Homo sapiens: one gene and its partner. The protein of the gene in region 1 purifies or fractionates together with the protein of each later gene. This does not show direct contact. Each region holds a gene or a part of one and is shown on either strand. Other genes may lie near its edges.

Evidence for each region. The genes of interacting proteins can lie anywhere in the genome.
Region 2: the proteins of NRBF2 (region 1) and PAXBP1 purify together in Homo sapiens (affinity purification with mass spectrometry; one large-scale study listed by BioGRID and IntAct). This does not show direct contact.

What each region holds. Positions count from the first base shown.
Region 1 is NC_000010.11:63,150,292-63,153,047, forward strand, and holds part of NRBF2 (nuclear receptor-binding factor 2), read left to right. Parts: exon of another isoform or gene 1-65; intron 66-1,858; coding exon 1,859-1,899; intron 1,900-2,756. UniProt on the Homo sapiens protein: May modulate transcriptional activation by target nuclear receptors. Can act as transcriptional activator (in vitro). Involved in starvation-induced autophagy probably by its association with PI3K complex I (PI3KC3-C1).
Region 2 is NC_000021.9:32,737,098-32,740,755, forward strand, and holds part of PAXBP1 (PAX3- and PAX7-binding protein 1), read right to left. Parts: intron 1,245-3,658; exon of another isoform or gene 1,223-1,244; coding exon 1,076-1,222; intron 312-1,075; coding exon 157-311; intron 1-156. UniProt on the Homo sapiens protein: Adapter protein linking the transcription factors PAX3 and PAX7 to the histone methylation machinery and involved in myogenesis.

The DNA of each region.
Region 1 (2,756 bases):
GTATGCAGCTGTACAGACATACTACAGGAAAAAAAGACAAGGGTTGTGGGAAGGATGTAATTATGGTAAGCATAGCTGGAGCAAAGACTGTATAACCAACTCTGTTTTTTCTTTCCTTTTTTTTTTTTAAATTCTTTTTAAATTGATACAGGGTCCCGCTATGTTACCCAGTCTAGTCTTGAACTCCTGGGCTCAGGCAGTCCTCCTGTTTGGCCTCCCAAAGTGCTAGCCACTGCGCCTGGCTCCAACTCTTCTTTTTCTTGGAAAGGGAGCATCTAATTCAGCAGTCCCAACCTTTTTGCTGCCAGGGACTGGTTTTGTGGAAGTCAATTTTCCATAGACCTGGGGTCAGGAAAATGGTTTTTGGATGATTCAAGCACATTACATTTATTGTACACTTTATATTTTACAATGTAATAATAGAAATAAATAATTATACAACTCAACATAATGTAGAATCAGTGGGAGCCCTGAGCTTGTTTTCCTGCAGCTAGACAGTCTCATCTAGGGGTGATGGGAGACAGCGACAGATCATCAGGTATTAGATTATCATAAGGAGAGTGCAACCTAGATCCCTTGCTTGTGCAGTTTGCAGTAGGGTTTGTGCTATGAGAAGCTAATGCCGCTGCTGATCTGATGGGAGGCAGAACTCAGGCGGTAATGCAAGCAATGGGGAGTGGCTGTAAATACAGATGAAACTTCACTGGCTTGCCTGCTGCTCACTTCCTGCTGTCTGTGTGGCCCAGTTCCTAACAAGACATAGACCAGTACCGGCCTGGGGGTTTGGGACCCCTGATATAATTGTATCTTAAAGACTGTGGTAGAACCTAGCAGGCAAGAACTCTTAAGTTATGACATCAAAGCATTAAATTATTTGGATTAAGACTGGACAGAAAGCAATGCCTCGTAGTATCTGCAAAAGGGCAAAAGAGGAACTTAATGTAGGTATGAGAGATGCCAAAAATGTTTATAACAAGCAAGATAAAAATGGAGATTCATTATGGACAATTCATTGATAATAGAGAACTTATTTATACCTAACCTTGTTCCCGAAAGGTTATAAAATGTCTTACAGATGAATGTACAATAAAATATCGAATGTAATTAAAGATACATAGATAAGGACATCCATAGAGAAAATGAGAAAGGACTAGTAGTGTAGTTCACAAAATGTACCATTAGTTCTTGCATATTTTTTTAAGAACTTGACTTAAGTTTTCTAGCAGTCATCCTAAAGAGGAAAGATAATAATTTTTACATTGGCTATTAAAATTCAAACAAATAGTCACCGAGGATCTAAGATCAGAGAGAAGTTTATTGAAGGTCTTCATAAATGACATTATACTGTCCTCAGTAACTTCCTCGCAGTAAATATGTCAACAAGTTCTTAGGGCTTTTAACCATAAGGCTGATGGTTTAACTCAGAGACAATTCATTAAAAGTGATTCTATAGGAGTCCAAAATGATAGATTCCAGGTATTCAGACGGATAAAAAGTCATTGATAATCTCATGATATTTTTGTGAGTATGATGAGTAATAGGGTTTGGATAGGTTCTTGTTTGATTTTTATCTTTCCTAAACCTATTTTTCTGATTAGACCATCTTCAGTTTCTGAATTATAAAATCTGTAGGAGTTTTAAATAACAAAACCTTCAAGATAGGGTAGGGAATATTTTCATTTTATTGCCACTGACATCCTTTTGGGGGAAGTTAAGAATTCTTTTAAAAAATCCCCAATTGTATCAGAGTTATCAGACCAGTTCTCTTTGTCATATGAAGATTATTAAAACTCTTCCTTTTACCTGTTAATTACAAAATGAAGACACATATTAACATGCCTATTTTTTCTCTTAACAGCATATCTTTCTGAAGCCATGAAGCTGACACAGTCAGAGCAGGTGAGACATATTCCCAATATTTGCGACAAGGGTTAGAAAGGTTTTCTTGTGGAGGCTTGAATTGTGTGTAAAGCAAAGCATTGTGTCCCTCTCAAAATGCTATAGTCAAAAATATATAAAATGGGCAAGGGAAGAGCACTTCACAACGGAAATTAAAACTAAATGAACTGCAGTCGATGCCCCAGACATGGAATGCAGAAACTTCTTTTTTTCTAGTGGTTACTCACAGATCTCAGATTGCCAGCCAGATGTACCTTTTAGAGAGCCCTCTTCGGACCATTCCTAATCATTAGCTCTTATTTGATCATTAGCTTACAGTCAGTAAACAGGCCTGGCCAAGAGGAAACTAGTTGGACCACCCTTTGCTTGTCAAAGATAATTTAAATCTGACCAGTCTCCCACTTGTCTTTGCTTGAATTCTTAAGCAGTTCAGGCACTTTTAAATTTGTTTCACCAATTGCTTTAAATTGTCTTCTGTGTTTGGGGAGGCCCTGCCAAGTGTTTCAAGATACATTTATTCATAAGACTGGGCATGGTGGCCCATGCCTGTAATCCCAGCACTTTGGGAGGCCAAGGCAGGGGGATCACTTGAGCCCAGGAGTTCGAGACCAGCCTTGGCAACACAGTGAGACCCCATCTCTACAAAAACTTAAAAAATTAGCTGGGCGTGGTGGCACATGCCTGTAGTTCTAGCTACTTGGGAGGTTGAGGTGAGAGGATCACTGAACACCTGAGTCCAAGGCTGCAGTGAGCTATGACTGCGCCATTGCACTTCAGCCTCAGCAACAGGGACCCTGTCTCTAAAATAAATATATATAAAATATCTTTTTAAAAACTTTTTGTTATAAAAGTATTAG
Region 2 (3,658 bases), on another chromosome or scaffold:
CTAAAATGAAAAATTATGTGCATTTTTGGTAGGTTTATAATACTAAGTGAACATACAATTTAAACTAAAATATAAACATCTCTACTTAAAACATTTTAATACTAAATCTGGCAACTAAACAACTCTAGATTACCATTTCATTAATTACAAAATTACCTTGCATTTCTTTTTTCCACATCAGAACACCCGATACTATTTCTATAAATTGTATCCGCTAAGTGTACAAGGTATCGGCAAAAGTTTTCTAACTGAGAAATAGTCCTTTCTCCTTTCAGATTCATGAACCATTGTTTGGGGAAACAATTGATTACCTGTGGAGAAGAAAGACGTAAAATAAAATAGTTAAGACAGAATAAATTAAAGTATTAAAAGCAAAGTCTAGTTAATGGGTATAAATGTATTTCACCAGAAGACGTGCTTCTGAGCTACAGCAATTACTCTGAAGAAATATTCTTTTAAATCTGACTTCCTACATTAACTAAACCAATATACCTAAATTTTTACCCCAACCAATGGGTTAGGCACTCAAAGCAAAAGATAATCTGTCCAATATTTGAGTAAATTAGTAACATAAAACTGACAACCAACTGCTTCATTTTCCAGTCTTCTAGGATGGCCTAAATATACTGAATTTCCTTTTCCAGCAGCTTTTGATGTAAAAATGAGTGGTATAAAAATGAAATTACAGCACCCCCATCCCCTGCAATAATTCCACGAATAGACATCCATGCATGCTGCTAAGGGAAGTCGAGTTGGCCCAGACTGAGGTTAAGATAATAAGGTTATTATTCTGAAATCAAAACTTTTATTTATACCTATAAAAATATCAAAACTTTCACTAATATCTATAAAAATATGGATATAGATGGATATATATATATATAACAGTATGCATTTTTATGTAAAAAATGCTGTAGGGGGTTGGAACTACCTGGGTAGGCAAACTGTCAACCTTACATGCAAGTCCAGTAATCAAAGGGGTTTCATAAAATTCTCAAATCCCTCTTCAAACAAACAAAAACTTAATTCATTTTAAATTATATGCTTTAAAAACTGTACTATGCATTTAACTCACATTTTGGGCTTTTTTGATGCTGTCATCTCCATATTCTGAATTCTGAAAAGCCATGAGAATATATCGATTTAATAAACCATCTATTGATAACTCTTGCAGAGTTTTATTTGAGAAAATGCCATACCACTGAAGAAAATTGCCTAACAGCTGGAAAGAAGAAAAAAAATAGGTAATGTGAAACAATTAGATTAGGTACAAAGTAAATAAGTTACATAGTAAAACACCATATGAAATACAGCAGACCATGTCTTGCCAAAGTACTAAGAAATATTAATACTTTCAAAGGTACAGATATTTCCTAGAATGGTTACATTTGAATATTCAATTTTAATTAGTCAAAATCGAAACAGCCACATGTAGCTAGTGGCTACAGCACTGGTCAGCACAGATACAGAACATTTTCCATCATTGCAGACAGTACTATCAGGGAGTGCTGAGTCTTAGGTAAGTGTCCTCCATTCAAAATTACACTCTAGCTGGTTCTATGCACACCCCCACCCCGCCCCGCGCTGCCCACAAAAGATGGGAGAGTCTGACTACAACCCTGCATGGCTACCATGTATCATGAACTACAACCAAGTTATATCACTTATGCATCTCAAGCTACCCAAGCTCAATCAATATATAGAAAATGAAAGCTATCATCATAAAATGAAAGCCCCATCCCATCCCACCATAAAAACTTATAGTTTCCCAGTTGTTTCTCAACTTAGTAAATGGTAACACTATTCAACCAGCTGCTTGCGGCAGAGGTCTGGAGGTCATTCCTGACCTCTCTCTCAAGTTGTGTGTCTCCACGACCATCCAGTCTGTCCATTTCCCTCAGTTCCTGCTGCCATCCTCCGAATCTGACCCACCTTAATCTCTTCAGAACCCTGCAGTTACTCCAGTGATTATGAGCAAGAGCACTGAGTAGCCTTTCTGAAGCAGGGCTCTGCAAGAGTTCTAAACCTACAGAAAATGATTTGTGTGGCTCTTTACTCAGTTCTCCCAAGAATGATACATAGCTAGTACTGTTACAGATGCAGGGGAAAAAGAAGAATTCATTATAGACAATGGAGGCCTTAGGGCATTAGGTATTAAGTCTCCCACAGAAGCCCAGTTGAGAAGAGCAGCTCAAGAGTCAGACTGGCTGAGTTTGATTCCCATCTCTAATTACCAATGGAATGACCTTGTGCAGGTTATTGTGTGCCTCACTACCCCATCAGTAAAGTGAAAAAACAGCGTGTACCTCATTGAGCCATTCTGAGGATTCAACAAGATAATCTATGTAAAAGGTGCGGGACAGTGCTTGGTACATAGTAAACACACAGTAAGTACTAGTTCCCATAAAATACACAATAAATACCAGTTCCCATTTTCACTATCACTATCCATACCTACTTCAATCTATTATCTCCACATAGCAGACAGAGTAATCTTAAAAATGGTAATTTATAGACCTGTGGTTACGGCCGGGCGCGGTGGCTCACACCTGTAATCCCAGCACTTTGGGAGGCTGAGGCGGGCAGATCACGAGGTCAGGAGATCGAGACCATCCTGGCTAACATGATGAAACCCCGTCTCTACTAAAAATACAAAAAAGTAGCCGGGCGTGGTGGTGGGCGCCTGTAGTCCCAGCTACTCGGAAGGCTGAGCCAGGCAATTTATGGCTGGGCACAGTGGCTTATACCTGTAATCCCAGTACTTTGGGAGGCCAAGGAAGGAGGACCACTTGAGCTCAGGAGTTTGAGACCAGCCTAGGCAACACAAGACCTCGTCTCTTTAAAAAAAAAAAAAAAAAAAAAAAAAAAAAGGCAATTTGTTTACTTACCTTAAACCCTTCCATGACACATATAGTTAACTGGTTTTCAACAAAGGCACAAAAGCAATTCAATGGACTGTGAAAGGGAAATATCTTGGGCCTCTTCAAGCTGGGGACCCCGCTGAGGGCAAATCTGCCTCCCATTCTATTCAAAGTCATCTCTCAGCTCACAGAGATAGATGCATATTCTGATTGCCTCTTCTGGAAAAACTTATCAGAAACTCCAAAGAATGCAACCATCCCTCTCTCACCTACATGTGACCTGGAAGTCCCCAATGGGGGGGCCTTGCTTTGAGCTGTCTCCACCTTTCTGGATGGAACTAATGTATTTCTTACATATTGATTGATGTCTCGTGTCTCCCTAAAATGTATAAAACCAAGCTGTGCCCCGACCACCTTGGGCACATGTCATCAGAACTTCCTAAGGCTGTGTCACAGGTGTGTCCTCAATCTTGGCAAAATAAACTTTCTAAATTAACTGAGACCTGTCTCAAATTTTTGGTGTTCATAGGACAAAGGAATTTTTGGTGTTCACAGAAAAGGCTATCGCCTTTTCAACAAATAGTGCTGGAACAAGTAAACCTTAATCCAGGCCTCACACCCTATAATAAAAATTAACCTGAAAAGAGTCACAGACCTAAATGTAAAACCTAAAACTATGAAACTTCTAGAAGAAAGGATAGGAGAAAACCTTTGTGGCTTCATATTAGGCAAAGATTTCTTAGATATGACATCTAAAGCACAATCCATAACAGGAAAAAAAGATCAACTGGACTTCA